6 separate regions of the Homo sapiens genome follow, and all the other regions are reported to be linked to region 1. Evidence: microRNA targets listed by miRTarBase, many of them from high-throughput screens and not tested one by one. Region 1 holds a microRNA gene; each other region holds the end of a gene's coding sequence.
Evidence for each region. The annotated mature microRNA hsa-miR-663a reads AGGCGGGGCGCCGCGGGACCGC and lies in region 1 at 2,117-2,138, opposite strand. An mRNA with a match to its seed (bases 2 to 7 or 8) in the 3' UTR can be bound and repressed. Matches are read on the target gene's strand: a 7mer-m8 pairs with bases 2 to 8, a 7mer-A1 pairs with bases 2 to 7 and ends in A, and an 8mer does both.

Region 1 (5,070 bases):
AGAAGCCGACTCACTAAAGGGCAAAGTTTCTACATCCTGGTGATTTAATCCCCCTTAACCAAACCAGTCAGTGACCCCAATTTTCCAGCCCCTGGTCCTCTACAATCCCTTCACCCCAGCCAAGTACTCTCTGGAAAGACAGATTCGAGGGTGCTCGCATCTCCTCACTCAGCTGCCCTGCAATCATTAAACTCTTTCTCTACTGCAAACTCTGTTTATCAATTTATCAGACTGTGACTGCACAACAGGCATACAAACATGTGAGTCCTGTATCATTTATAAATATTTAACTTTTATGTATATTTAACTGCTATACCATAATTGACTAGTTTGTATGTTAATATTAGTAGGTAATAATAATATTTATATTTCCTCCATAGGTAGCTTCTGGGGGCATTTCTGCCTGGTAAATTTTATTCTTTAATGACAAATACTAAAGTAAGTAACTTTAAAATATTATTGAGAATTTTTTTTCTATTGATGGGACACTGAATTTGTAGGTGGAAATAAAAACCTAGCTTTTTACTAAACTTAATTTTTTATTTAAACACAACTCAAAATGTAAATATAAAATTAAGAATTTCCAAAATTAAACTTAGTTTTAGGAACTCACATAAGCAAGTGTAATACTGAAGAGCAAAGAAACTGTGCTCTATAAAAAAAAATTACAAGTAATTCTTGAAATCTAAGGGCTAATTTGTGAAGTAAATTTGGAAGCTACTTTATGCTGTAGCTCCATCCTAGAGACCGAGAGAACTGCACTAGGAAAACCTGTTCAACCTTTTTTTAACCAGAAATTCTTTCTTTCTCCAGAAATCCTTTTCAGGTAATGCCTAATGATATCTCATTGAACATGTATTAGAAATTGTAGTTTAATTTTTAATTAAATAATTCAGTGAAAATATATTAATTGTAAAGATAAATTTTAACACATATGGGAATACTAGACTTACGGTGGTCATCAACCCAAAATGCTACAAAATTACATAGAATGGTTAGTTTGGCAAAAAATAAATATCACCACTAGCACCAAAAACCTAGGTTTCAAAAAGAAATAAAAGAAGCATTCCAAAATGTTAAAAATTTTTCATTTATCTACTTTCTAAATGTTCTTTGAAACACTTCTTATGTCATCATAATTTTGAAGTTTAAAAGTAAAGAAATAGTTATTCTAGTTAATATACTACCTTAAAGTTACTCTGGCTCACAAACAGAACAAAGCAAAGCATGACTTGACAGCAGTCGAATTACGGGAAATTGAAGCTAAACGAAATTGGATACCTCACCTCATCTAAACTCCTTACTTTATAAGAAGGAAAAGCATCACAAAATGTTGAGGCCATTTAACTTAAAGTCATCAGGTGAGTTAGAGATAATTTGAGACCACTGCTTTTTTTCTCTTTGTTACTATTCTCTTATGAAGTTTTGCCTGAAAACAGGTCTACTAAAAATATAAGAATTTGTAATGAAGATGAACATATATCATTGCCTTTCTGCTTAGGATTGTTCAATATTTTCCCATTGATAATATATAAAATCCTACCTACTTTGACCTCCTCTCCCACCATTTCTTTGCTCTCTATCTCCTAGAACTTCATTCTTGACTCCAAAGCTGCACCCTCCTGCATCAGTTTCTTTTGTTTGAAATCTTCAGCTCTTCATAAATTTCATCCAGCAAACTCCTATTTATCCTTTAACTCCCTATTATTTTTTCTTACAGTGCCACATTTTCCTTCATTAGCACATATCCAATTTAAAGTTACATAGTTTGAGTTTTTGCTTGACTTTCTGTTTCTGCACTAAAGCATAAGCTCCACAAAAGCAAGTATCATGTCTGATTTAACAGGGTATATTCTATTCTTTTTTTTCCACAAGGCGGTGCCCGGTTCGGTCCCAGACGCGGCCACCAACCGACGTAAAGCCGGTGAGCCGCTCGGGGAGGAGAGAGGATCGGCGGGCGGCGGGCGGGGAAGGGGGCGCAGACAGGCAAGGGCCGGGGACCGCGAGGGCAAGGGCACCTGGGAGCCCGCAGAGGGGCGGCTGAGGGAGAAACCTCAGGCATGGCCGGGCCACCAGGAAAACACGGCCGCGGGATCCCACCGCCACAGACACGAGGGCGGTCCCGCGGCGCCCCGCCTGGGACGCCGGAAGGCCCTCGGCACCCACCAAGACCTGCCTCACGAGCCCCTGGTCCCGCCACCGGGGCCCCGAAGCGACCACAGCCACAAACTCAACGCCAGGGCCACATCGCTCGTGATTCTCGTCCATCCTCCGACCCGGTCCCGCTCCGGGAGACCGGCGCGCCCCCACCGTGGGACGCTTTCCCAGGGCCAGGCGGCCCGACCACGTGCCACGCAAACGCCGTCGTCCGCACCGGTCGCGACTCGGCAAGGGAGCGGGCGGAGAGCTGACTCGCGGCGGAGGGGGGTCACTCGCCGGACGGAACGCTGCGCGCAGCCATCGCTCGCTGTCAGCCGCGTCCCAACCCGCTAGGACGCTGGGCCCTGCCGGCGGGATCCTCCCCTTACTCGGAAAGGGGAGGCGCCGGCCACAGTAGGCGACGAGCCGCGCTCGGCCACCACCGCGGTGGCCGGCGGAACCCTCGCTCTCCCCCCGTCACCCCGTCGAGGGGGAAGCTGAGGAGGGTTCCTCTGCAAGCGAGTCGCTACTGCAGCGCTACCATAACGGAGAGAGAGACAGAGGCGGCAGGCCGGGGGATCCCGTACCCCAAGGCACACCTCTTGGATCGCTAGAGAAGGCTTTCTCACCGAGGATGGGTCACACTCCCCACCCGCCAGCCGCCCCTCGTGGGGCCCGAGGGGCCCGCAGAGGCGCTCAGGGAGGCCTGGGGAAGGGAGGGGGCCTGTGGTACCAGGAAAAACCTGCGTGCGGCAACCTTGAGCGTTCGCGGTCAGGGCGGGGACCGGCAGGTGCGAGCGTGAGCGCAACTCCACAAGCCCCCGCCTCCCACCCCCCCCCCCACCCCGTCCACCCGCCTCTTTTCTTCAGAGGCAAAGCACCTCCGAGTAAACCCACACACGACCGGTCGGAGGCAGAACGGTAGCCCCTCGGCGGCCGGCCGGCGCACGCGTCACCAGCCCAAGCCCACCGCGATCGCTCACAGGGCCCGTGCGCACCCGCCAGAGGGGAGCACCGGACGTGCGCTCGCCGGACCAGGCGGGCGCCCTTCCCCGCGTGGGAGGGGCGCGTCTCGTCTCACTCAACCGCCTCGAACCCCACACCGACGAGCTCCCTCAGGACCCACGCGCGGACACCGAGGCGCCGACCGGAGGAGGGGGCGCTGGGGGTGGGAACGACACACCACCGCTCGGCCTCGGGAACCTGAGGGACAACCCGGAGCGCTCCAGGAGCACCGCAAAGGCCCAGGGGGAGCCAACGCTCGCGCAAACTCCCCGGGAGGGCAGCACGACGGGCCGGCGGGACAGCACCCCCACCGCTGCGGAGGGGGGCCGCCCGCAAGTCGACAACCACAGGAGGCGAGAGCGAGGGGTGCCTGCCGCGTCAGAGGACCCCCCGACCCACCCCGCGAGGCAGAAGGCGGGGGCGGGACAGCGAGGTCAGGCCGGGTTCCGCACCCCATGCCTTCCCAACGCACCACCCGCAGGCGAGGAAGAGGAGAGACAAGGGGCCCCCGCGGGCGGGACGAGAAGAAGGGTCCCATTCGCCACGAATGTCCGCCCCTCGCCCGTCGCGGCTCGGACACGGCCAGGGAGAGCATGACATCACCATATTCTATTCTTACAAGAGTGCTGCCACGTAAGTGTCAATGAATGTTTGTGAAATAAATGAGGGACTAAAGGAGTGATCGAACAAATAAAAATAAGTTATCTGTGTGTATTGTATGTGTGAATAAGATTTTGAGTTTGGCCAAGGCAGTTAATCACATATTAACAACTCTTTAGATACATAAGGTTTATAGCAATGAGGTACAAAATTGGTTCAACACCAAATTCTAAGATGAAACAAGGTTTATGTTCAGAAATATAGTGTTACTTTTTCTAATATCATTTGCCCTCCAACTATCAGCATGACACATGCAAACCATTGATACGTGTTTTTTTTTTTTGTATTGAAGATTCCACATGAAGAAAAATTATTATATTTCCAATAGGAAGTCCTCTTCTAAATGACAACAAATCTGAGGGTGAACACATTTGTTAAAAAGAGAGAGATTAAAAAGTTAAGATGCTGTTTGTACAGTATATAACTGAACAAAGTTGTATCTAGCAATTTGACAAGAAAGGTAAAACAGAATATTAACCTCAGCACACAAGTTTAGCTAATGATCTGGAACGGGGAGTTGTGAGTAGAGAGGAGGACAAAGATGAAAGACAACCATTTATCCCAAGTTTCTTTCCAAAGATGAAAAATAAAAAACCCTCTTAGTAATGTTTTTTAAATTCTAACTACTTTCAAGAACACATCAATAAGATATAGAGAGATAACAATCAAGTTGGACATTAACTTAAAAGTCAGATGACTTTTTAAGCATAAGTAACTTAGAACTGTAAAGTAAAAAACACTAAATGTCAATGACTTTAAAGTGGATACTGAAGTAAAAAAAAAACCTTCTATTAAAAACTAGACTATATGCAGTAACTTATGTAGAAAGCTTAGCATAAATATTTATACAAAATTGCCCTACCATATTTTATTAAAATATTACATTATAAATTAAGAGAAAATAATTTTAAAAATGAGTTATATTTTAGGCAATTTTTCTCAAAATGAGTTTCATAAATTGATATGGTTATTAGCATAGTAATTTCAATAATAGGAACAAAGAAACCAAATGAAAACCTAATGTGTGTATGTGTGTGTGTGTGTGTTTTGTGTGTGTGTGTGTGTGTGTATACAATTACCTGGAATTCCAACTTCAATATGTTTAAAAATACTTCAGTGAAAAACATTAGATTTCTTTTAAGGTAGTTTGTAAGATATTTATTAGGTTTATTTGTAGGCCTTGCACACTAAGTTAAGCAACACTATCATAAAATAAATTATTTAATAATGAAACAGAAACTCAAAGCTTCATATTATAATTAAATA
Region 2 (5,064 bases), not on the chromosome of region 1:
GCTTCCTAACCTCTGTGCTTCAGAGAGGGCCGGGAGTGGTGGCTCATGCCTGTAATCCCAGCACATTGGGAGGCTGAGGAGGGAGGATTGCTTGAGCCCAGGAGTTCGAGACCAGCCAGAAAAACAAGGTGAAACCACGTCTCTGCAAAAAATACAAAAATTAGCCAGGTGTGGTGGTGCACGCCTGTGGTCTCAGCTACTCTGGAGGCTGAGGCAGAAGGATTGCTTGAGCCCAGGAGGTCGAGGCTGCAGTGAGCTATGATTACACCACTGCACTCCAGCCTGGGCGATAGAGTGAGACCCTGTCTCAAAAATAAAAATACAAAAATATAATTCACATACCATACAATTTCCCTTCAAGGCCAGGCGCGGTGGCTCATGCCTGAAATCCCAGCACTTTGGGAGGCCAAGAAGGGAGGATCACTTAAGCCCAGGAGTTCAAGACCAGCCAGAAAAACAAGGTGAAGCCACGTCTATGCAAGAAATACAAAAATTAGCCGAGTGTGATGGTGCACACCTGTGGTCCCAGCTACTCTGGAGGCTGAGGTGGAAGTATTGCTTGAGCCCAGGAGGTCGAGGCTGCCGTGAGCTATGATTGCACCACTGCACTCCAGCCTGGGTGACAGAGTGAGACCCTTTCTCAGAAATGAAAATAAATGTAATTCACACACCATATAATTGCTCTTCAAAGCCAGGTGCGGCAGCTCATGCCTGTAATGCTCCCAGCATTTTGGGAGGCCAAGGCAGGTGGATCACGAGGTCAAGAGATTGAGACCATCCTGGCCAACATGGTGACTAGTAAAAATACAAAAATTAGCTGGGCGTGGTGGTGCACGCCTATAGTCCCAGCTACTCAGGAAGCTGTAGCAGGAGAATCACTTAAACCTGGGGGGAGGTGAAGGTTGCAGTAAGCCGAGATGGTGCCACTGCACTCCAGCCTGGGCAACAGGGCAAGACTCCATGTCAAAAGAAAAAAAAAAAAAAAAAGGCTGGGCACGGTGGCTCATGCCTGTAATCCCAACACTTTGGGAGGCCGAGGTGGGCAGATCAGGAGGTCAGGAGATTGAGACCATCCTGGCTAACACGGTGAAACCCCCGTCTCTCCTAAAAACACAAAAAATTAGCCGGGCGTGGTGGCGGGCGCCTGTAGTCCCAGCTACTTGGGAGGCTGAGGCAGGAGAATGGCGTGAACCCGGGAGGCAGAGCTTGCAGTGAGCTGAGATCACGCCACTGCACTCCAGCCTGGGCGACAGAGCGAGACTGTCTCAAACAAACAAACAAAAAATTCCCTTAAAAAAATTATGCACCTGTCACCACTAATTCCAGAACATTCTATCCAGCCCAAAGGATGCCCCATATCCATTTGTGATCACTCTCAATCCCCTTCTCCACTCTCCAGCACCCGTGAATCCCCTTCCTGTCTCTGTGGATTGGCCTGTTCTGGACATTTCACAGAAATGGGATCACACGCCTCGTGGCCTTTGGTGTCTGATGTCTCTCACTAAGCATGGCATCCTCAGAGTTCGTCTGGGCTGGGGGCCTGTGTTAGAGCCTCGCTCCTTTCCATGGCTGTCATTCTGCAGTGTGGATGGCCACACTGCACTGATTCACTCCCCGGCTGGACATGGGTCATTGCCACATTTGGCTGCTGTGCACGTCCGTGAGCACATTTGTGTGGACGGACGTGTTCACTTACCTTGGGGACACGTCTAGGGCTGGCATTGCAGGTCCCACGCTAACTCCACATTTAGCCTCAACTGTTTCCAAGGGGCTGCACCACGTTATCTTCCCCAGCCATGTGGACTGCAGCTTCCCTGACCCTCGCTGCTGTTTTTGATGCTAGCTGTCCTGGTGGGGGTGACAGGTATCTCACCGTGCATTTGACTCACATCCCTAACATCTCTTCATGTGCTCATTGGTTGTCTGTATATATATTTTTTTGAGACGGAGTCTCGCTCTGTCGCCCAGGCTGGAGTGCAGTGGCGTGATCTCAGCTCACTGCAACCTCCGCCTCCTGGGTTCAAGCAATTCTCCTGCCTCAGCCTCCCGAGTAGCTGGGACTACAGGCGCCCGCCACCACGCCCAGCTTTTTGTATTTTTAGTAGAGATGGGGTTTCACTGTGTTAGCCAGGATGGTCTCGATCTCCTGACCTCAGGTGATCCACCCGCCTCGGCCTCCCAAAGTGCTGGGATTACAAGCGTGAGCCACTGCACCCGGCCCTTTTTTTTCACCTTACAAAAGCAAAACATTTGTGTATCGTCTTGGCCACCCAGAGACATGGACGATCCTGGGACCTGAATTCCATGTACAGCCCAAGTCCCTTCTCCCATTCTCCCAGCGTGGTGGACACCAGGCCCAGGCAGTACAGTACACAGTAAAACTGGCCTCATTCAGGTCGGGCATGGTGGCTCATGCCTGTAATCCTAGCACTTTGGGAGGCTGAGGCAGGAGGATCACTTGAGGCCCAGAGTTCAAGACCAGCTTGGGCAACACAGCAAGACTCCCTGTCTCTATTAAAAATAAGTAAATAAATAAAAATCTGCCTCATTTGACCACGAGCAGCACCTTTTGAATTCTGAAGCTGAGGCAATAACCAAGAAAGAGAGATGTGGGTGAGGCTGAGTTTCTGTCCTTCCCCCAACTCCGCCCCCCGACTACAGGGTACACACTTAAGAGACACAGGGCACAGAAAAGCGGACGCCTGGATGGCTTCACCTCGACCTTTTTTATTTGCATTTTTTAAAAACAATTAAATTAGAATACAAATATTAGAAAACAGCGGCCTTCAGCTGCCCGTGCGGGCGGGAGGGGCCGAGCTGCGCAGCGGGCTGCGGGCTCTGCAGTGAGACTGAACTGCCCTCGGCCAGATGCACGTCCCTTTCTTTAGACCTGAAATGATATTGCTTCCTGACTAGGAGTTCTGTTTATACAAAGGAAAATTCTGGGCTGGGGAGGACAAAAGCAAAACAGACCGCAGGCAGCGGTGTTGGAGAACCAGGTGAGGCCGGTGCCCCGCCTGCGCCCCGGTCTCCTGCGGGGCAAGGGGGGTGCCCAGCTGTGGGCTCCTGAAGGCAGAGCCCTGGTAGCTCCCCCAGTTGTTGGACCCTGAGGCCAAGGGCATGGGTGGGGCCTGCGAGGGGCCGGGAACGCCTGGGGACAGGAAGGAGGCCCCTGGTCTGGTCCTGCTGGAAGAGTGAGGCTCCCGGGGGACAGGGTGCCGGGCCAGCCTCGTACCCGTCGGAAAACCAAGAGCAAAAAGGAGAGGAATCAACCCAAACCGAGAGCCGGGGTGGCCGGGGTCCCTGCTGCCCCTTGGGAAGCGACCGCAACCCATGCCCCAAGGACCGGGGTATGGTGGCGGCGGCGGCGGCGGCAGCTGTGGACATCTGTGGACATCTGTGCTGTTCCGTAGGGAAGTTAACCTGAATTGGAATTACCGAGGTAGCTGGCTAGAAAACTGAGACCCCCCCACGCCACACGGTGCCGCACCCTGGGCCCCCGCCTTCCCCGGGGGTTCCTGACCACACGCCGGGTCTTCAAAATACCAAATTATTGCACTTTCAAAAAATACAACACATCTGTGGCTAAACCCTCCCCAGCCGCCCACTGTACCCCCATCCTGCCCACCCATCCCCCCACCCTACTGCCCCTCCCCGCCCCAACCCACTCCATGGCTTCTCGGCTAAAACGCTCGCTGCTCGGCGCGTGAGGGTCTCTGGGCGAGGATGCATTTGCAGAGAAAAAGCAAAGGAAGAGACAAACGTCAAAGTGGTCGCCAGAGAGGGGCTGCGCCCCACCGCCCGCCGCCCGGGTCCCCGCGCACTGGCTGGAATGGTCGTGGGCAGAGGGCGGCGGGCGGCGGGGCATCCGGAGGGGAGGGCGCGGGGCGGCGTCCTGGTCCCTCCCGCCCACTACCCCTTCCCGGCTCGGACTCCAGCCGGGGAGGCGGCTGTGTGGGTGGCCGGCCTTGTTTTTAAGAGTTTGACTTTTTTGTTTCATTTTTCTTTTTTGTATCTTTTTTTGTCATTTTACTTTTTTTTTTAATCCCCCGATAGGAGAGTCCAGAGGTACAGGTGCCAGGAGCCAGGCAAAAGGGTGGAAAAACAAAACGAACGACAATAAAAAGAAAAAGAAAGGTCACTCCTCCCTCTGCGCCCGAGGCTGGCCCGTGCCCCTCTGCGTGGTGAGCACCAGGAAAGTCGAGTGTGCGGCCGGGGTCAGCAGGCCGGCACCAGGCCCTTCTGGAAGGGGCAGCGGCGCTTGGGCCGGGGCCCCTCTTCGTCCTCGTCTTCCTCCTCCTCTTCCTCCTCCTCCTCATCCTCCGAGGACGATGAGCTGTCCAGCGTGAGGTCCACCACATCGGCGCCCGGCTTCCCATTCTCCATGCTGCCCACCGGGCCGCCGCCACCCGTGCTGCCCAGGGCACCGCTCCCGTTGACGCTGGGGGCGGGCAGGAGCCCATTGGCGTCCGAGGGGCCTACGGGCAACAGGGACAGGGTGCAGGTACTTAGGATGCAACCACTGATAAATGGGGAAACTGAGGCGGCCCTGGCTGCGGACTGCGCGGCTGGTGGGGTGAGGCACTCACCCAGCACGAGGATGGCGCCCTGCGGGCTGCAGCTGCGCTCCTTTTCGGCGCGGATCGGGCACCACGAGCCGTCCACCAGGTACTCGATCTCGTCGGCGTCCTCACACTCGCTCAGGATCTTCGAGAGGAGCCTGGGGCGAGGCGGACAGCTGACGCCGGGGCTGGAGGTGCCCCACCCCCCCAACTCCCCAGCCCTCCATCCCTCCCGGATGCAGCCAGGCACTCCCCACTTCTCTCTGCAAGAGCAGCCTCACCACCCCGACCGCAGGGGTCCAGGGACCCCGCATTCCCTCCCCCGCCCTCAGGCCCCTGCAGGTGCTGAGCCCCAGGCAGGTCTGCAGTGCACGGCACTGCCGGGGGGACGGGGCATGGACACACATACCCAGTGGCCCCCAACTACCCACAAGAGCAGGGAGTGTGGCAGCTGCAGGGGTCCTCCCCACCCTGCCCCTCTGGGCACCTCCGGGTGTGCACG
Region 3 (5,070 bases), not on the chromosome of region 1:
AGACCGCAGCTGCAGAGGAAAAGCCTCCAGGACCGGTGGAGTTGCGGGAGTCCACCGAAGGTGGGAGGAGGATGAGGGGTCAGTTCTGACCACTAGAACTGACCAGTGAGGGCAGGACAAGTCATGAGGGAGTAGCCTCCTGTTACCAACTGGGGCGACAAGTGCTTGCAGGGCATGCAGTGGGGCCTCCTGCACTGGGCGGGAGGCTGGTGCGGCAGCGCCTTCTTCTCAGATTTCCAGGTGGTGGTGGTGGTGGTGGTGGACGGGGTCTTTGAAGTGTTTATTCCCCCCTGGGAGGATAAGCCCCCTCCTCTGTTGCCACCAGGATGAAGCTGGAAGGGGCTCTGGCTGTACAGCGGGCCATTTGGGACTAGGAGCCTTTCCCCACCCTGACCCCCGTCCCCCGCAGGGCTTGTGCCCCTGTCCCAGCTAATGTTTCACTTCTTCCTCCCCTCCCCTGCCCTCCCCCACCCCCACCTCCCCATCTGCCCATCCTGGGCGCGGCCTCTTCTGTGCTTCTCTGGTCGCTCTGCTTCTCTCTCTGCTCTCAGTAACTATGGGCCTGCCCTCTGACCACCCAGGCCCTTTGTCCAACCTCGTGCCCCCTCCCCCCCCTTTTCTGCCCCCACCCCTCCACCATTCAAGGGACCCCTCTCTCCAGATGCCCCTCTGGCTTCTTCCTTTTGCAGTTAATTTCCTTGGATTTGTGGAGGTTTTCCACTTTTAAAACTTCAGCTGGGGGCCAGCATGGAGGCGCTCCCTTCCGCTCTCTGACCCCTGACCCCTGTTTTTGTTCCAGGCCACTAAACCATCTAAAGAGATGAGCGGGTCGAATGAGACCTCGAGCCCAGTCTCAGAAAAGCCCTCGGCTTCCAGAACCTCTATCCCTGTATTGACTTCCTTTGGGGCAAGGAATTCTTCCATCTCCTTCTAGAAGCCCCTCACCCCGCTGCCCCGCCTGTCCCCCTCCCTCACTCCTGCCATTTCTCCCCTCTCTTCCTTCATCTCCACCCCACCCCACCCTACTCTCCAGACGCCCTGAGGGGTGTGCCCTGAAGAGGAGGGTGCGGCCCTCCTCAGCGACCCCTACCCATCATCTGTTGGTGTTTTTGGTTTTGTTTTTTTTTTTTTTTTTAACAATTAACTTTTAATTATCTTTTTTTAAACAGTAAAACTAAAAACCAAACACACCACCTTCCTTGATCCCAGCTGGCCTCTCGCTGGCCGCACCTGTCACATCTCTCCTTCTTCTCTTTCACCACTCTTTCCCCCAGTCCATCCTGAAGCTCCTGCACCCCCTTCCCGCCTTCCCCTCACTTCCCAAGAATACTCCAAACAAACTCTGAACCACGGAGACTTGGAGCAGTGGGAGACCCCTCTCCCGTTTCTCGATACCTTCCTGGAGGAACGCGGGGACATCGGACCAACCCATACATCAAGCCAGAGAGCGGGGCTTAGGGAGACTGGCCTTGGAGATGCCCCACTCCCTGTCTAAGCTCCGACAAGACTGTGACTTCCTCTGTGGCTGCTCTGCCTCCTCCCACTCACACCCAAGTGGGCCTGGAGTAGAGACGGACAGGCTGGAGACGAGGCCGGAGTTTGAGAGGCCTCAGGGTGGGTGTGAGGCCATGGAGTCTGTATCCCTGGGGAGGCGCTGGCCTCCTGGGCCTTGCCGTCCAGTGGGGAGTGGAGGGCAGAGGCCCTTTGGTCTGCTGGCTGTGGAGGGTGGGTTGCACGGACAGCCGGATATCGGGGACACTGCCTTGGGAGAGGGCGGCCCGGACGGGTATTTGGTACTTTTAGTTTCCTGATTTAGCACTTTAAATGGCATTAACTTATTGAATGGGGATGGGGTGGGCAAGAGTGAGGGGCCTAGAAAACCAGGTTTTGTGGCTTGCAGTTGGGGGAAGGGTCTGGTTTGAGGGAAATGGGAGGGTCGAGAGGGGCTTGACGGGGAGCACTGAAGACACCTGGGACCCGCAGGTGGGGTGACTTGAACTTCAGTCATCCTCTTGGCAATTTGAGGGTTTTCCCAGGAAAGGATGAGACGTAGTTTTTCAATGGGGCTCTGGTGACCCTGGTGAGATGTCTGAAGGTCCCTGAGGCCTGACCATCCAGCCAGCGCCCCTGGCCTGTGGACGCCCTGCCTGCCCTGCAGAGGCGGTTGGCAGTGCCGCCTGGCTTTTGGCCGGGTCCTGGGGAGGCAGAGAGAGGCCAATTTTGGTTCTCACTCCTGGCCCCCCAGAGGGCACAGTGAGGAGCCGGTAGGGAGAGGATAGGAGAAGAGGAGGAGGAGGAGCGGGGTCCCCGGCCGCAGGATTCCCACTTGGAGCACAAAGTGAAGTAAGCACAGGGGAGGGGGACTAGAATCAGTCCCCCATAGCAAGCACAGAAAGGAGGAGCTGCGCAGAAGGCAGAGCCCCCCAGACCCTGGGGCCTGGCTGGGGAAGGTCCGCACCTGGGGAGAGCTGGGAGCTGTTGAAGGTTTGGGGGGAGGGGAAACGGGTTGTGTTTCTTCATTTCTTTTTTTGTTTTTGCCTTTGTTGGTTCATCCTTGTTTTCTAGCTTTGGATCATTTTTGTACCAAGGCGAGCAAGCCTTTTTGAAAAATAACAAAAGAGGAAAAAAAAAATCCCTCCTGGAAAAAAAAAAAAACCCTGGAAAATAGAAAAAAAAAAAAGGACCTCATAAATGATGCAATTACTTTTAATTGCAGGCAACTCTTTACATTTAAGTGAAGTGTCTTAACATTTTATATTGTTTTAAAAATATATTTACATATTATATATATAATATACGTAATATAAATATATATAAATATTTAAAAAAGAAAAAAAAAAGAAAACCACGGCACTCTCCCTGGCCACTGTTTTGGCGGGGGAGGGGGGCTGGGGGGCGGGCACGTCGGCCTGGCTTCTGTGGTCCCAGTGAAATGGTCTGGTTTGATTTGGCTGTACAGAGACCCCCTGACTTGGGAGGGGAGGGGGGAGTGGTGCCCCCTCCTCCCTCCACTCCATTACTCTCTGCTTGCTACTTCGCTTGCCCCCAGCTCCCACCCTCAGCCCTGTGACTGGAATGTGTGCCCCACCGTCATTGTCCTGAGTTGAATGTCCCTTTGTGGGGGAGGTGGGGGGGGCAGTGTCCATCCACGAAGGGGCAGAAGGAGGGAGCCACGTGCCCCGCCCCACCCGCTCGGGTGAAGCCCAGTGGGATTTGCATCTTTCTTTCTCTTTGGTTCCTGCACATTTATGGGCTGGGAGGCATCCGTGTGGAATTGCGTGCAGCCTGTGTGTGTGCTGGCACAAGCCCATGCACTGTGTGTGCAGACGCATGGGGCCTGCACCCACAGGCATGGCCGAGCACATGTGTGGGGGAAGGCGTGGGCACATAGGTGCATGTAACCTGTTTGGGCATTGGCACGTGCCTACCTGCATGTTAGCGTGAGAGGAGCTTTGTGTGTGAGAACATGTGTAATGTGTGTGCAGACATGCCGAGAGCCAGAGACTTGTGTGTGGGCCACGTACATGTGGATAGAGACGCATACATGGAGGTGCATGTAATCTGTGTCTCCGAGTGTGTGTGTGCAGGTATGTGTGCTGGTGCAGACCCAAGTGTGTGGGTGTGCCTCTGTGTGCGTGTGTTCCATCATCCCTGCACCACTGGCTCCAGATCCCTTCCTGAGCCCCCGTCCCCGCTGGCCCTCTCACAGCCTGCAGCACATCAGTGCCCCCAGCTGCATGCGCCTCGCTGCTCTGTCCATCAGTGTGTGCTTGACCAAGAGAAAACTAAGACGTCTCGGGGGACCCCTGTACCTGGTCCTCTCAGCCCCCGCCCACTGTGCTGTGTTACTCGCATGGGGGATTTCCTGCCCCTTCCACAATATGCTGTTTCCCCAGGAGCCTCAGGCCTGAGGCTCTGAGTGGGGTCCCCAGGGGGCCCCCCGGGGTGAGCCCCGGCTCCACACCCTGCCCCATCCACCCTGTAGGGCCCATGTTGGTGTAGCAGTGATGGCTTCTGTGGATATTCTGTGACCTCTGTCGGTGTAACTTGACAATTTCTAAATGGAAAAGGGTTGCTGTGTTTTCTCTGTCTCTCTTTTTTAATGTCCTTTTTTCTTCTCCCCCGCTCCCTGCTCTCTTTCCTTTTCAGTTTTTCTAGCCAAGTGTTTGGGGCTTTAATAAAACTTGTTTCTTTTTCCTCTCCTGGATCTCCTTCCTATAGGCTGATGTCTCATTATTTCTCTGCTTCACCCTGGAGGATCTGGAAGGTGCTGGGATGGGTGGGGTGGCAGGTGGGGAATCCCTGGCAGCCACTGGCCTTCAGCTGGCAGAGCATGAGGGGGAGGACAGAACAGGGCCCCTGGGATTAGCCAGGTGGGGTGGTGTACACCAGTAATCCCAGCTACTCGGGTGGCTGAGGCATGAGAATCGCTTGAACCCAGGAGGTGGAGGTTGCAGTGAGCCAAGATCGCACCACTGCGCTCCAGCCTGGATGACAGAGCGAGAACCTGTCTCAAAAAACAAAAACAAAACAAAAAAAACCAGTTCTCAGCTTGGCATTCCAGGAGGTGTCCTGCCTAACCCTCACAACCATCGGTGAGGTAGCTACCGGCACTACCTACTCAGGCAAGTGACAAAACTCAGAGATGTTGGGCATCTTACCCAGAGTCATACAACTGGTAGGTTGTAGACAAACCAGTAAGTTTGAATCCAGCTCTGCCTGACACCAAAGCCCACGGTTACCCTGAAACCAAGCAGGGCTGATGACCTCCAGTAGTCCCCTGAATTGGGTCTCAGCCTCCTGCCCTTTGAGTGAGATGACCCTTGGTGGGGGTCCACCCATCTTTTCTTTCTTTTCTTTTTTTTAGACGGGGTCTCCCTCTGTCACCCAGGCTGGAGTGCATGATTACAGCTCACTATAGCCTCAACTTCCCTGGGCTCAGGTAATTGTCCCATCTCAGCCTCCCAAGTAGCTGGGACTACAGGTGCCTGCCACCACACCTGGCTACATTTTTTTGTATTTTTTGTAGAGATGAGGTTTCGCCATGTTGCCCAGGCTGGTCTCGAACTC
Region 4 (5,070 bases), not on the chromosome of region 1:
CTGTCCACCAAACTCCACCTGCCAGCGGACGACGTGGTCAGCATCATCGAGGAGGTGGAGGAGAAGCGGAAGCGGAAGAAGAACGCCCCTCCCGAGCCCGTGCCGCCCCCCCGTGCCGCCCCCGCCCCCACCCACGTCCGCTCCCCGCAGCCCCCGCCCCCCGCCCCCGCTCCCGCACGAGACGAGCTGCCGGACTGGAACGAGGTGCTCCCGCCCTGGGATCGGGAGGAGGACGAGGTGTACCCGCCAGGGCCGTACCACCCTTTCCCCAACTACATCCGGCCGCGGACACTGCAGCCGCCCTCGGCCTTGCGCCGCCGCCACTACCACCACGCCTTGCCGCCTTCGCGCCACTATCCCGGCCGGGAGGCCCAGGCGCGGCGCGCGCAGGAGGAGGCGGAGGCGGAGGAGCGCCGGCTGCAGGAGCAGGAGGAGCTGGAGAATTACATCGAGCACGTGCTGCTCCGGCGCCCGTGACTGCCCTTCCCGGTCCCGCCCCCGCGCGCCCCCGCCGCGCGCGCGCGCCGGCGCCCCCCTCCGTGTTGCCCGCTCCCCCTCGGTGTTTGCATGCGCCCCGGCCCTGCCCCTTGGCCCTGCCCCTGTCCCCGGGCTGCGTCGGGACCTGCCAGACCCCCCTCCCGGGTCCTGAGCCCGAACTCCCAGAGCTCACCCGCGGGTGACCGGGGGCCAGCCCAGGAGGGCGGGTGGTTTGTGCGAGTTCCCTTGCCACGCGGGGCCCCGGCCCCATCAAGTCCCTCTGGGGACGTCCCCGTCGGAAACCGGAAAAAGCAGTTCCAGTTAATTGTGTGAAGTGTGTCTGTCTCCAGCCCTTCGGGCCTCCCACGAGCCCCTCCAGCCTCTCCAAGTCGCTGTGAATTGACCCCTTCTTTCCTTTCTCTGTTGTAAATACCCCTCACGGAGGAAATAGTTTTGCTAAGAAATAAAAGTGACTATTTTATTAGGACTTTGTTCTCGGTTATTCACCCGTCCCCTTGGGCCTGTGTGGTCCTTCCCAAGGGGCGGTGAGGGAAGCGCCAGCCACAGTCCCCGTCTCCTCCTGCTTCCTGCCCCCAAACTAAGGCAAGGGGTAAGTGGGGAAAGTCCTCAAACTGTTTTTAGAGGAGAAGAATGTGGCTCGCACCCATTAAGAAACCCGAAATTCCACTTCCAGCTTGGGGGCTGGTGGTAAAGTCATCTTTCCCCAGGGCTTGACAGAGAGAGGCCCAGCGGAATGCAATAAAAGAGCCAATTGTCTGCGATCAGTCCAGCGACCTCTGGTTCAAAAGAAAAAGGCGACCCGCAGAAGGTGCCACAACTCTGGGTGCCAGTGGGCTCCTTTTTCCCAAGATCCTGGGGCCGCGCGGGTAATGCCGGAGTTTCCTGTGTTCACCCACCCACCTCCCTCCACTGATCCCTACATTCCTGGTCCTAGGTACTTTGCAAGAAATGCGGGGAGGAGGGAGTGGCAGCCACAGAGACATGCTGGCTAAAGCCACTTCTTAACTTTTTTTTTTTTTTTTTTTTTGAGACAGGGTCTCACTATGTTGCCCAGGCTGGAGTGCAGTGGTGCAATCACAGCTCACTGCAACCTCGACTTCCTGGGCTCAAGTGATCCTCCTACCCCAACCTCCTGAGTAGCTGGGACTACAAGTGTGCACCATTATGCCCAGCTAATGTTTGCATTTTTTGTAGGGATGAGGTTTTGCCAGCTTGCTCAGCTGGTCTGGAACTCCTGGGCTCAAGCGACCTCCCCACCTTGGCCTCCCATCTTAAGCCTTTTCTAATCGCAGGTACTTGTGAACTGATTCAAATAAAACTAAACTGGGCAAACGAAATCACCCACAACAGACCCGCATCCTGAAGAGTTGCTCCTCCTTCCATAAAGGCAGCTCAGGGAGTTGGGGGCAGCCCGTTTGGAGACGCATTGGGCATAAAAATCCGTTTAAGGTAGGGTGGCCAGATAAAATACAGGAAATGAAATCTGAAATTCCAGATACACAACAGATGCAGTTTTAGAGTTAAATGTGTCCCAAACACTGCATGCAACACATTTATCCCTAAAATGATTTGTTGTGTATCTGGAATTCTCATTTAACTGCGTGCTCTCCGTTTCTTCCCAAGGCTGGCAGGATCCCCTTGGCCTCCCGATGATGCCAGCAGCCCTGCCTTCCTTCACAGAGCCCAAGGCCAGCAAAGTCCAGAAATGCTTTTACTTTTATTTCAGAAGAAAGGACATAAAGGCAGACACTTCCCCCTCCCCCTCCCCACCCCTCCCAGCTCCTGCCTCACCCAGAACTGGAGTGAAAGGCCAGGGCCAGGACCAGGGTCCCATAAAGCTTGCCCTTCCCCCAACCCTTCCTTCCCTCAAAGTGGCAAGGTTAGAAAAAAATTAACTATGTTGTTCCTCCCTGGCACTGGATAAAGGCCCCACTGCAGCCAAGGAGAAAGAGGGGGGTCCAGGCTCCCCTCCCAGGCAGAGAAGCTGCCTGGCTGGCTAGGGGGAGGGTGGAGGTAGGTTATGGGACAGAGAGGACAAGAAGTGCCCTGAACACCTTTTCCCTTTAACCTGACATATTTATATATTTACAGTTATTAGGGAGGGAAGGACATCTGGGGTGACATCAGTTCTGCAAAGGCAGGGAATAAAAGCCAAATAGCACCCCCATCTGGGTCACATTTTCCTGCCTCCTAGCTTCTAAAACCTTCAGTGGGAAAAGGGGAAAGTGGAGGTAGGGGGTGGAGGGAGGGAATGTTTGAAGGGCCTGAGCCCACAGCTCACTCCGAAAGGTGAGGCAGCAGAGGAGGGGCAGCCGAGTCCCACCAAGAACAGGGCCCTGGGCAGAGGAGAAGCAGCCGTTCCCGCCACGCTGCCAGGACCCCATCGCCACACCCCGGCCCAGCAGGGGCTATGCCAAACCCATCTCCTCCAGCACACTCCGTGGCGACTCATCCTCCTAAGGCAGAGACAGACAGAGGGTGACGCAGAGACACCAGGAGAGGCCGACAGGGTGGGCAAGACAGCAGTCACGAGGAAGAGTCAGACGGGGGAGGCACAGACACGGGGGAGGGGGAGAGAAGCCAATGTGAGCCCAAGGCCGGACCAGTGAGCCCTTCATGGGGCACCCACCAGCCTCCCAGGGCCAGCCCCAGAGCCAGCCAACAGTGGCAGGGGGGGTCCAGGTTGAGTCCGTCACCACCCAGAGAACCCAAAGCCAGGACCTTGGTAAGCAGGGGCCCCGCCTTGACACCTGGGGGTAAAGGGAGTGAAGCCGGGACAAGGAGGTGGGGGATCTTTCTGGGGCCCTGGGGGGTACAGCTGACTGGGTCCTGTTTTTCAGAGTGGGGAAAAGGCAGAGGGAGGTGAGTGCCAGGTCCCTGAGGGAAGGTGAACCAGGCTGCAGGGAGATGCGTCATTAGGGTCTGAGCGCAACACTGGTGACACGATGGGTGTGTGTGCCAGGGCATGTGTGTGTGTGTGTGTGTGTGCGCGCCAGGGTGTGTGTGTGTGCGTGTGTGGGAAGGTGAAGCTCGACCAGTGAGGTGGCAAGTTCAGTTCTGCCCTCTCTCCCACTGCAAAGATGAGCCCTCCCTCGCCCCCCATCTCTCCCCCTCCTCAGAGCCAGCTCAGGCCGGGCTCGCTCATCACTGCAGATTCCGGTGACTCATCTCCCTGCACCAGGGCTCGGTGATGGCACAGCAGAGAGGGGGCAGGCAGTAATGGGGTGAGGGCGGGGGCGCTGGGGAGCAGGGAGAACCAACATCCAGGTGCCCTCTGCCAGCCCCCAAATCCCCATAGCCTTTTCCTCCTGAGACGCAGAGGCTTTGGAGTATGTGTGTGTTAAAAAAAAAAAAAAGAAAAAAAAAAGAGAGGTGGGGGAAGAAATCAGGGAAGAAAAGAATGACCTACCAGGTGCCCCTTCTCCAATTCTCCAAGCAACCCTTAACTCCAGAGCAAACCCTTAACCCTTTGGTGTTAAGCCTTGCTCAGAGAATTGGACAAAGGAGACTGGGTGGCCACGAGACATCTGGGGGCTTGGGAGAAGGACAGAGCTTGGAATGAGGGGTGCACAGGTGGGCTATCTGCCACCCTACCTCCCACCCCATGGGGTCAGGGCTTGAGAGTAAGCTGGAGAGCTGGGCGTGGTGGGGGTCAGATACCACAGGGAGGGGGGGCTCCTTGGCGACGGTGGGCAGGGCAGGCCGGGTGTCCAGGGGAGGGAGGACCCTGTCCGCCACTGTGCGCTTCCTCCTCCTCCTCACTGTCCCTGGCCCGTACCTCTTGCAGTAGGTCAGCCTGCTCGATGGCTTTCAGCACACTCTTCTTGGAGGTGTCCTGGACATCCCCCCCCATCAAAAACTCATCCAGGATGAAGTAGGCCTTCTCAAAGTTGAAGATGATGTCCAGCTCGCACACCTGGGAGGGCGGGGAGAGGCTAAGTTGAGCATGGAGGGGCAACTGGAGCCACTTCCTTTTCAAGACCGTGCCTCCCACCTTGGGTTCTGCCCCCAACCTCCAAGCCTTAGTCATTGGTCAGCTTTTTCAGTTTTTTTGTTTCGTTATTTTGTTAGAGACAGGGTCTCTTGCTCTGTCGTCCAGGCTGCAGTGCAGTGGCATGATCACAGCTCACTGCAGCCTCAAACTCCTGGGCTCAAGTGATCCTCCTGCCTCAGCTTCCTGAGTAGCTGGGACTACAGGTGCATGCTATCACGCCCACCTCATTTTTAAAATATTTTGTAGAGATAGGGTCTTGCCATGTTGGCCAGGCTGGTCTCGAACTTCTGGCCTCAAGTGACCCACCTGCCTCAGCTTCCCAAAATGCTGGGATCACAGGCGTGAGCCACCGCGCCTTGCCTTGGATCAGTTTTTTTCCCTCTTCCTCTTGCATCTTTCCTCCTGATCATGAAACATTAGTTGCCTTATCTACCTTTGTCTATGGTTCCCCTTGCCTTCCCCCCAAAATCTGTGACGTTCTTCCCACCAAAGGCTGTGGTAGCCCCGCTTCCTGGACACTGTGGGGCAGGGAAAGAGGGAATTCTGGACCATGGGGTGGAAGACTTGAGTTCCAAGCA
Region 5 (5,070 bases), not on the chromosome of region 1:
CCCAGTCACCTCTGCCCTGGGGACCACCCACCCACCTAGCGTGGAGGCCGCGTCTTCCTCTCGCCCGCTGCTACCTGAAGAGGGAACAGAGCTGCAAATTCAAGAGAGAGAAATCGGACCCTGGCTTCTGGCGGCTTGCCCTCCCTCCAGGTGTGTGGGACCACTTATGTGGACGCTGGAATGTGCTAGGAGGACAGGGCCCAAGCTGGGACTGCTGCCCCCGCCTTACCCTGACACAGACTCTGGGGACGTCGTGGGGGCGGATTCCTCTGATGGGCTCTTGTCCTCTCTGGCGGCAGGTGGGGGATGGGACATGCCTGAGGTGGGGGCAGGCGGGAAGGATGTAGAGGACTCTGGGGCAGCTGTGGGTGAGGCCTCTGGGGGTGCTGAGGTACCCTGGCCGGCTTTGGTCTGCAACAGCAAGAAAAAGGGAGCTGGCATCAGCAACCCTATCAGACCCAACAACCCGCTCCGCTGTGGCCCCGCCCTGTTCACAGCTAATCTCTCCTGGGCACACAGGCTCTTTGCCAGCTCCCCAGCTCGTCCACCCACCCTCCCAGCCAGCACACGTCACCCACCTTGGTCACCATGACGACCACAAAGTTCTTCTCATCGATGCGATAGTCCCTGATAGGGACATCGTCACTCAAGATCTTGCCGGCATAGATGAGTTTCTGTCCAGCCACGGGGAAGGCATCACGACCCTTCTCAGCTTCTATCTTCTCCTTTAGCACCTTCACCTAGAGGGAGTGGTACAGACAGTCACTGGAGACCCCAAGATTCTCTTTTCCCTTCTAGTTTAGGACAGAGAAACTGCCAGCCCTGATGGCAGAAAGGCAAGCACGCTGGGTTTTTTAAGCTTTCTCAGCATCTAAAGCATGCTAGATTTGAATTCATTCAATCATCATGCCATTCAACACAGTATTTACTTATACTAAACACCCATTATGTGCCAGGTGCTGTTTTAGACACAGAGGCCACAGCACAGAACAAACTCAACACAAGTAAGTCCCTGCTCTCAATGAGAGAACACTAATGTGAAGAAAATGTAATTTCGGGTAGTATAAAGTATAATTAACAGAATAAAGGGGACAGTCCCCCACTCTACACTCTACCTTGGACAATAAGTGACTAATAGTTAATAGTGATATTTTTTAATTTTAAGAGGCAGGATCTCGCTGCCGCCCATGCTGGATTGATGTGGCACGATCATCGCTGACTGCAGCCTCAAACTCCTGGGCTCAACTGGTACTCTTGTCCAGCCTTGGGAGTAGCTAGGACTAAAGGTACACACCACCACTCCAGACTAATTAAAAATAATTTTTTTTTGTAGATAAGAGTCTCCCTATGTTAGACTGGCTGGTCTCAAACTCCTGGCCTCAAGCAATCCTCCTGCCTCTGCCTCCCAAATCATCAGGATTAGAGGCATGAGCCACCGTGCCTGGCCAATAGTGCTACTGTAAATGTATATGTGTCATACCTTTTAAGTTTCCTATGAAATACGTTTAATTGGTCTCATTTTATTTATTGATTTTTGTTTCTTTTTTTTGTAGAGAACGGGGTCTCACTGTGTTGCCAGGATGATCTCGAATTCCTAGGCTCAAGGGCTCCTCTTCCCTCTGCCTCCCTAAGTGCTGGGATTACAGGCGGAAGCCAGCAGGCGACCGGTTCATTTGATATTTGAGAAAACGGAGGCACAGACAGGTAGGCAGGTTAACTTGCCCAAAGCCAAACACTTGAGCGGATCAAAAAATGTGTGTTTCCTTTTCTACAAAAAGTGGACTTCAATGTCTCCCTCACTATGCAAAAAGCGCCAAGTACCCAATAGACATTCAGTATGTTTGAATTAGGTCCTAATTCTACTTTTGACTAAAAAGGCAGCATAATATTTATATCGTGGACGCTCACACGAGGCAGAACCGAATTTGAATCCCAGCTCTGCCATTACTTGTGTGTGACTGTGGCAAAGTTCCTCAATCCCTAGGTTTCCACATCTGTAAAATGATCAGAGGTCCCCAATGACAAGCCCGTTTTGCAGAGCGGTAAAACAACACTACAACACTCGGTGACTGATAAAAAGTAAACGGCCAACAAACACGGACCACCAAAATTATAAAGACTGAGACCCGTTTATTATCATTAACATCGTTGTTGTCGTCACTACTCAGTATCTCCTGGTCATTACTCCTAGATTCGACCACCAGTGTCCCAAGGAGACGCCTGCAAAGCTGGGAACGTGGAGCCCAGTCTTGGAGAGCTTGGCCTGCCCAGGAATCCGAGCTTGTGACTCCCGCGCCCCGCGAGAGCGCTGACATTGGAGCCGGGGCCTGGCCAGCGCCCCGGGGGTGGGGCCTCGCCCGGAGACCGGCGCAGGAGCGCCGCCCGATCGGCTGGGGGCTGGGCCAAAGACCATCGGGGGGTCCAGGAAAGTCGGGCAGGTCGGGGGTCTGGGCAGGGCCGACCCGCGCCGTCCTCCCTGCCCCTCCCGTTGGGATTCTAGCCTCCCCGCCCCCACCCCACCCCCGAAACCCGTCGCTCCCGCCCCCGGGCTCCGGCCCGGCCCGCACCGTCTCGTCAGGCTCCATGCGGATCTTGAAGGTCTGCTGCTGCAGCGTTTTGAGCGTGATGGTGACGGCCATGGCGGGGCCCGAGCGACGCGGCGGCCCCGGGATCCTCACACAACATGCAACTCACGCCGCCGCCATCTTAGCGCCCAGGCGCGCCGCGCCGCGCGCCGACCACTTCCGGGGCAGGCAATGCGCGCGCTGACCACCGGCGCACGTGACCTGCGCACTCCCTCCTTGGCCTTTGTGGGCATGCGCACGAGCGCGTTCTCGAGCGAGGCACGCGCAGACTAAACTCCGCGCTGTGGGCGGGGCTTCTTGCTCGGCCCGCACACGTGGTCTCCTGAGTGACGCCATGCCCGTTATCGGTGACGTCACGGGGCTGCAAAGTGACTCTGGTGTCCCCACTCTCACGCTCAAATGAATTTTTAACAAAGTTTTTATGTACCTGTACTGGTTACAGACATTTGTATTTCTTCTGTAAAAACCTCATTTTGCCTCTTCCAAATGAGAATTTTTTCTTTCAAACAGTCTCTGTCACCCAGGCTGGAGTGCAGTGGCGCGATCTCGGCTCACTGCAGCTTCCGCCTTCCGGGTTCATGCAATTCTCCTGCCTCAGCCTCCCGAGTAACTGGGATTACAGGCACCCCCCACCACGCCCGGATAATTTTTTGTATTGGGTTTCACCGTGTTGGCCAGGCTGGTCTCAAAACTCCTGACCTCAGGTGATCCACCCGCCTCGGCCTCCCAAAGTGCTGGGATTACAGGCGTGAACCACCGTACCCGGCCCCCAAATGAGTTTTATTCTGGTCTGGGTATCCTGGCAGGAACCCTTGTAGAGCAGTCAAAGTGAAAGTTACTCAAAACTAGAAATACCTGAAAGGCCACCAAGCACAGAAAAAAAACCTTAAGTTGGAAGCGGGGGCAAGGTGCCATTTTGTAGCCTCATTCATTCTTTAGGGATCTGGAGTTTTGGAATGAACCTACAATTTTCATTCTTGGGTCTCCGGGCAGGAGTACTTTGTTGTACTATACCTAATCTGACCCCAGAAGTATTTAAAGATGTTAACTTTCAAAGCCTCACTACATTAAATACAGAATTCTCCCTTGGATCTACCAGTCCTGGAGGCATCCCAGAGGGGTTGGGCTGAGCCACAGGACCCCAAAGGAATAGAAGCATGAAAAAGGCCAGTTTAAGGGGCAGGGTGAACCAGATTGAGCCACTGTACGCCAGCCTGGACAACAGAGCGAGAGTCTATCTTAAAAATAAATAAATAAGCAGAACCAAAACTTACCAGTTAGGTTCAAGGATTCAGTAAGTTAGTATGTGGAGTATTTACAGCAGCAACAGCCATTCCCCCGTTGGTTTTGAGGGTTATGGGGTAAATAAGGGTCCCTGGAATCTTGTGGAACACTCAGCAACCTCTCTAGCAATAGCTGAAAAAGGAGATATACTGGAAACCCCCCCCCCCCCCAAAAAGACCACTGCTGGGTTTCCTTAAGTCTGTCTTTCCCCAGAAGGAGACACAGGAGGGAGACACAAAATTTAATTTAATAGAAATTTTGTTTGTAGTTCTTACATTCTCAGTGTGAGCCAATCTGGGACCCACTGCCCCACCCAGAAGTGGCCCAGTCCTGGGGGCAGGGGAGAAAGGGAGGGGTGAAATGAGAAGAGCCCCGTTCTTCCTCAGTGCTGGGGGGTTGGAGACACCACCCCCTTCTGCTGCCCTCCTCTGGGCTCCAGGAAGGAGAGCAGATGAAATCTCAGGCCTGTGGCTTCTCCACACCACTGCCCCCCAGGTTGGAGGGGAGCTAAGAGATGAGAGAAGGGGACAGAGGCAAGAAAAGATGTTGATCAAGAAAGATGAGAACCAGGGGTGAGGGCTGAAGGAGAATCAAAGATAAAATACCAGTTTAAAAAAAAAAAAAAAAAAGGGCGGGGAGGGGGTGGGGGAGAGTGGAGGAGGGGAACAAAACCAAAATCCACCCCAAATCCGAACCAGCCTGGAAAAAAATGAAAGTTCTCGAGTCTCACAGAGACATTATTTGGCGCGGCCAGCTCTGCGGCAGGAGCGCTCAGGCCTCAGTCCAGCCCTGGAGGCAGGCCTCTCTACAGCTCGTCCTTGGCCTGGCCGGGGACATCTTCCTCCTCATCTTCCTCCTTGTCCTCCTCATCCTCCTCATCCTCATCTTTGTCCTCATCATCCTCCTTGTCCTCTGCCTCCTCCTCCTCTTTGCGTTTCTTGTCTTCTTCCTCCTCCTTAAGCCTCTGCTCCTCGTCCTGTTTGTCCTTCATTTGTTTCTCTGCTGCCTGCAGGCAGAGCACACACCTCAGGGCCTTGCCCCCTGCCAGCCCTGCCCGCCCCCGACATCAGGACCAGGACCAGGCCTCACCTTTGTTACGCCCCACGTCTCGTTGCCAAACTCCTCAGCGTATGCCTCATCGTTGGTGATGAGGAAGTTGTCAAAGATGGTGCCAGACTTGACCTGGAGGATGAATGGGAAG
Region 6 (5,070 bases), not on the chromosome of region 1:
AGCAAGTCCAAGGGAGCCATGACCCGAGTTTCCCGGTCACTGACATGCTTTTTTCTCCTTCCTCTCTCTCTTCTGTGACCTGGCCTCCCTGGCCTCAGGAGACAGATCAGTTGGAGGAAGAAAAAGCAGAGCTGGAGTCGGAGATCGCCGAGCTCCAAAAGGAGAAGGAACGTCTGGAGTTTGTGCTGGTGGCCCACAAACCGGGCTGCAAGATCCCCTACGAAGAGGGGCCCGGGCCGGGCCCGCTGGCGGAGGTGAGAGATTTGCCGGGCTCAGCACCGGCTAAGGAAGATGGCTTCAGCTGGCTGCTGCCGCCCCCGCCACCACCGCCCCTGCCCTTCCAGACCAGCCAAGACGCACCCCCCAACCTGACGGCTTCTCTCTTTACACACAGTGAAGTTCAAGTCCTCGGCGACCCCTTCCCCGTTGTTAACCCTTCGTACACTTCTTCGTTTGTCCTCACCTGCCCGGAGGTCTCCGCGTTCGCCGGCGCCCAACGCACCAGCGGCAGTGACCAGCCTTCCGATCCCCTGAACTCGCCCTCCCTCCTCGCTCTGTGAACTCTTTAGACACACAAAACAAACAAACACATGGGGGAGAGAGACTTGGAAGAGGAGGAGGAGGAGGAGAAGGAGGAGAGAGAGGGGAAGAGACAAAGTGGGTGTGTGGCCTCCCTGGCTCCTCCGTCTGACCCTCTGCGGCCACTGCGCCACTGCCATCGGACAGGAGGATTCCTTGTGTTTTGTCCTGCCTCTTGTTTCTGTGCCCCGGCGAGGCCGGAGAGCTGGTGACTTTGGGGACAGGGGGTGGGAAGGGGATGGACACCCCCAGCTGACTGTTGGCTCTCTGACGTCAACCCAAGCTCTGGGGATGGGTGGGGAGGGGGGCGGGTGACGCCCACCTTCGGGCAGTCCTGTGTGAGGATTAAGGGACGGGGGTGGGAGGTAGGCTGTGGGGTGGGCTGGAGTCCTCTCCAGAGAGGCTCAACAAGGAAAAATGCCACTCCCTACCCAATGTCTCCCACACCCACCCTTTTTTTGGGGTGCCTAGGTTGGTTTCCCCTGCACTCCCGACCTTAGCTTATTGATCCCACATTTCCATGGTGTGAGATCCTCTTTACTCTGGGCAGAAGTGAGCCCCCCCCTTAAAGGGAATTCGATGCCCCCCTAGAATAATCTCATCCCCCCACCCGACTTCTTTTGAAATGTGAACGTCCTTCCTTGACTGTCTAGCCACTCCCTCCCAGAAAAACTGGCTCTGATTGGAATTTCTGGCCTCCTAAGGCTCCCCACCCCGAAATCAGCCCCCAGCCTTGTTTCTGATGACAGTGTTATCCCAAGACCCTGCCCCCTGCCAGCCGACCCTCCTGGCCTTCCTCGTTGGGCCGCTCTGATTTCAGGCAGCAGGGGCTGCTGTGATGCCGTCCTGCTGGAGTGATTTATACTGTGAAATGAGTTGGCCAGATTGTGGGGTGCAGCTGGGTGGGGCAGCACACCTCTGGGGGGATAATGTCCCCACTCCCGAAAGCCTTTCCTCGGTCTCCCTTCCGTCCATCCCCCTTCTTCCTCCCCTCAACAGTGAGTTAGACTCAAGGGGGTGACAGAACCGAGAAGGGGGTGACAGTCCTCCATCCACGTGGCCTCTCTCTCTCTCCTCAGGACCCTCAGCCCTGGCCTTTTTCTTTAAGGTCCCCCGACCAATCCCCAGCCTAGGACGCCAACTTCTCCCACCCCTTGGCCCCTCACATCCTCTCCAGGAAGGGAGTGAGGGGCTGTGACATTTTTCCGGAGAAGATTTCAGAGCTGAGGCTTTGGTACCCCCAAACCCCCAATATTTTTGGACTGGCAGACTCAAGGGGCTGGAATCTCATGATTCCATGCCCGAGTCCGCCCATCCCTGACCATGGTTTTGGCTCTCCCACCCCGCCGTTCCCTGCGCTTCATCTCATGAGGATTTCTTTATGAGGCAAATTTATATTTTTTAATATCGGGGGGTGGACCACGCCGCCCTCCATCCGTGCTGCATGAAAAACATTCCACGTGCCCCTTGTCGCGCGTCTCCCATCCTGATCCCAGACCCATTCCTTAGCTATTTATCCCTTTCCTGGTTTCCGAAAGGCAATTATATCTATTATGTATAAGTAAATATATTATATATGGATGTGTGTGTGTGCGTGCGCGTGAGTGTGTGAGCGCTTCTGCAGCCTCGGCCTAGGTCACGTTGGCCCTCAAAGCGAGCCGTTGAATTGGAAACTGCTTCTAGAAACTCTGGCTCAGCCTGTCTCGGGCTGACCCTTTTCTGATCGTCTCGGCCCCTCTGATTGTTCCCGATGGTCTCTCTCCCTCTGTCTTTTCTCCTCCGCCTGTGTCCATCTGACCGTTTTCACTTGTCTCCTTTCTGACTGTCCCTGCCAATGCTCCAGCTGTCGTCTGACTCTGGGTTCGTTGGGGACATGAGATTTTATTTTTTGTGAGTGAGACTGAGGGATCGTAGATTTTTACAATCTGTATCTTTGACAATTCTGGGTGCGAGTGTGAGAGTGTGAGCAGGGCTTGCTCCTGCCAACCACAATTCAATGAATCCCCGACCCCCCTACCCCATGCTGTACTTGTGGTTCTCTTTTTGTATTTTGCATCTGACCCCGGGGGGCTGGGACAGATTGGCAATGGGCCGTCCCCTCTCCCCTTGGTTCTGCACTGTTGCCAATAAAAAGCTCTTAAAAACGCATTCGCCAGGCTACAGTGTTTATTTCCTCCTAACACCCATTGCCTGGCTTCCTTTTAGTAAGAGAGGATGAGGTTAGATTGTCGAAGGACTACACACACACAGAGATCATACACCCATGCACACACACACACAGACACACACCTATGCAGGAACTCCTTCTAGTCAATGGGTCTACAGCAGGATAAAAGGAAGGCAGACAGTCAGGAGGACTTCCTGTACTCGCAGGCAGTGCCTCCTACTAGAAAAAGTAAGTGGCTACAGCTGGGCGCAGTGGCTTGCGCCTGTAATCCCAGCATTTTGGGAGGCCAAGATGGGCGGATCACTTGAGGTCAGGAGTTTGAGACCAGCCTTGCCAAGATGGTGAAACCCTGTCTCTACAAAAAATACAAAAATTAGCCTGGTGTGGTGGTGCACACCTGTAATCCCAGGCTACTTGAGAGGTTGAGGCAGGAGAATCACTTTAACTTAGGAGGCAGAGGTTGCAGTGACACAAGATTGCACCACTGCACTCCAGCCTGGGTGACAAAGTGAAACTGTCAAAAAAAAAAAAAAAAGTAAGGGGTCAGAAGGTTAGCCTGCAGGTGTGGGATCACAGAGGTGTCCTAGTGATGGAGCTTGTATGCTCTATGGGTTAAAAACAGACGCTAAGGAGATAAACTATACACAGAAGAAGCTTAATGGGCTGTGCACAGTGGCTTGCACTTGCAATCCCAGCTCTTTCGGAGGCCGAGGTAGGAGGCTAGGAGTTCGAGAACAGCCTGGGGCAACATAGTGAGACACCCCCCACCCCAACCCATCTCATTATGTTGAGAAAAAAAAAAAAAAGAGGATCTTGAGAAACTTGCACAGCAAACTACTAAAGACCACTCAGGCTAGGAATGAGGCGTCATCTTGGATTTTTTACAAACTACAACTACAAAAAACAATTATTTTACACTGAAGATGTGTTTCCTTTTGTTTTCCATATGACCACTATTGGGGCCAACCCAAGACTGACTGAAGCAAATATATGACCATTTTTTTTTTTTACACATAGAGTGGAGCCATCCCCATTGCAAAATCCTAGCCGTCTCTTATTTGCATAACAGCAAGTCCTCTGGGAATTGAGGTGAGGGTCCAGGGGTCGCTCAGACGCTTTGGTAAATCAATAAGCAAGGGAATTTGTCATGGTGGAATCCATTTATTAATTCACTCAAAAAAATGTGCTAAGCACCTACCCAACTGTGCTGGGAGTTGGGGACACTATAGGGACTGAGCCTCAGGTCTTGCCCTCCTGGGGCTCACAGTCCATTGGGGGACACACACCGTTGCCAGTCAGGGACAACCTAAAGTGGATTGGGTTTGGGAAGCCCATGGGGCTAGGGAAGCACAGCAGGGACACCTAGCTTGGACTGGGAGTCGGGAAAAACTTCCTGGCGGAGGGGACAGCTGAGCTGAGTCCTAGAGGAGGATAGAGAGTATAGAAAGAAATAGAAAAAGGCCAAGGCCAAGAAAATAGCACAGCCATAGATCTGTTGGTGGGGAGAAGGCTTGATACATTGAGAACGCTTAGAGGGTCGGGTGCGATGGCTCATGCCTGTAATCCCAGCACTTTGGGAGGCCGAGGTGGGTGGATCACCTGAGGTCAGGCATTCAAGACCAGTCTGGCCAACGTGGCGAAACCCCGTCTCTACTAAAAAATATATATATATATATACAAAAAATTAGCTAGGCATGGTGGTGGGCACCTGTGATCCCAGCTACTCGGGAGGCTGAGGCAGGAGAATCGCTTGAACCTGGAAAGTGGACATTGCAGTGAGCTGAGATTGTGCCACTGCACTCCAGCCTGGGCAACACAGCGAGACTCTGTCTCAAAAAAAAAAAAAAAAGAAAGAAAAAAAAGAGAAAACTCAGAGATTCGTGGAGACTGGAACCACGGGTGTGGAGAGAGGGGTTAGTAGAGACCAGATTCTGCAGGTACTATAATGACATTCCCAGGCTAAGGAGTTTAGATCTTTTCTTCAGGGCACTGGGGAGCTATTGCAGGTTTTGAACACGAGAGGGGCAGGGGCAGGTTTGTGATTTAGGAAAGACCCCTCTGGCCCCAGACTGAGCGTGACTGGAAGGGAGAGGAGTGAGACTGAGCAGGAGACCAGGGAGGAAGTGGGGTGGGGACCCTGCAGGGTGGGGTGAGGAGGAGTCCAGAACAGGGCCAGGGACATGGGACAGAGAGGAGGGGAAGGATTCAGGAGACACTCGGGAGGCAGGACAGTTGGGCTTGGTGAGCAGCCGGCTTGGGAAGGAAAATACAGGGCAGTAATAAATAGCATGGGTCAAGTGGTCTGAGTGAGGCTGGGAGTGGTG

Region 2: the mRNA of PIAS4 is a reported target of hsa-miR-663a. Seed matches in the 3' UTR shown: 7mer-m8 at 3,859-3,865.
Region 3: the mRNA of SRCIN1 is a reported target of hsa-miR-663a. Seed matches in the 3' UTR shown: 7mer-m8 at 953-959, 7mer-m8 at 3,178-3,184 and 7mer-m8 at 3,827-3,833.
Region 4: the mRNA of VGF is a reported target of hsa-miR-663a. Seed matches in the 3' UTR shown: 7mer-m8 at 507-513.
Region 5: the mRNA of CALR is a reported target of hsa-miR-663a. Seed matches in the 3' UTR shown: 7mer-m8 at 4,500-4,506.
Region 6: the mRNA of FOSB is a reported target of hsa-miR-663a. Seed matches in the 3' UTR shown: 7mer-m8 at 1,921-1,927.

What each region holds. Positions count from the first base shown.
Region 1 is chr20:26,206,127-26,211,196 of GRCh38, forward strand. MIR663A (microRNA 663a) reads right to left here and starts at 2,152; the gene lies at 2,060-2,152. MIR663AHG (MIR663A host gene) reads right to left here and starts at 3,107. Exons shown (of 5, transcript NR_040095.1): 1 at 2,997-3,107. RefSeq lists enhancers at 1,625-2,126, 3,010-3,570.
Region 2 is chr19:4,037,030-4,042,093 of GRCh38, reverse strand. It overlaps PIAS4 (protein inhibitor of activated STAT 4), which reads right to left. Exons shown (of 11, transcript NM_015897.4): 10 at 4,590-4,720; 11 at 2,708-4,478. The coding sequence ends at 4,219. Among named protein-coding and RNA genes, the nearest start is that of ZBTB7A, 27 kb to the left of the region's middle.
Region 3 is chr17:38,529,161-38,534,230 of GRCh38, reverse strand. SRCIN1 (SRC kinase signaling inhibitor 1) reads left to right here. Exons shown (of 19, transcript NM_025248.3): 19 at 800-4,200. The coding sequence ends at 934. Among named protein-coding and RNA genes, the nearest start is that of SRCIN1, 74 kb to the left of the region's middle.
Region 4 is chr7:101,158,403-101,163,472 of GRCh38, reverse strand. It overlaps VGF (VGF nerve growth factor inducible), which reads left to right. Exons shown (of 2, transcript NM_003378.4): 2 at 1-964. The coding sequence ends at 477. It overlaps AP1S1 (adaptor related protein complex 1 subunit sigma 1), which reads right to left. Exons shown (of 5, transcript NM_001283.5): 4 at 4,277-4,414; 5 at 2,197-2,954. The coding sequence ends at 2,907. It overlaps MIR4653 (microRNA 4653), which reads right to left and starts at 4,000; the gene lies at 3,918-4,000. RefSeq lists silencers at 36-85, 646-735.
Region 5 is chr19:12,943,518-12,948,587 of GRCh38, reverse strand. CALR (calreticulin) reads right to left here. Exons shown (of 9, transcript NM_004343.4): 8 at 4,959-5,051; 9 at 4,099-4,875. The coding sequence ends at 4,675. It overlaps RAD23A (RAD23 nucleotide excision repair protein A), which reads right to left and starts at 2,726. Exons shown (of 9, transcript NM_005053.4): 1 at 2,568-2,726; 2 at 579-740; 3 at 230-411; 4 at 36-91. The coding sequence starts at 2,639. RefSeq lists enhancers at 110-1,309, 2,625-2,844, 2,256-2,948 and silencers at 1,939-2,233, 2,205-2,264, 2,285-2,474, 2,485-2,564.
Region 6 is chr19:45,472,453-45,477,522 of GRCh38, forward strand. FOSB (FosB proto-oncogene, AP-1 transcription factor subunit) reads left to right here. Exons shown (of 4, transcript NM_006732.3): 4 at 99-2,727. The coding sequence ends at 560. Among named protein-coding and RNA genes, the nearest start is that of TRU-TCA1-1, 3.7 kb to the right of the region's middle.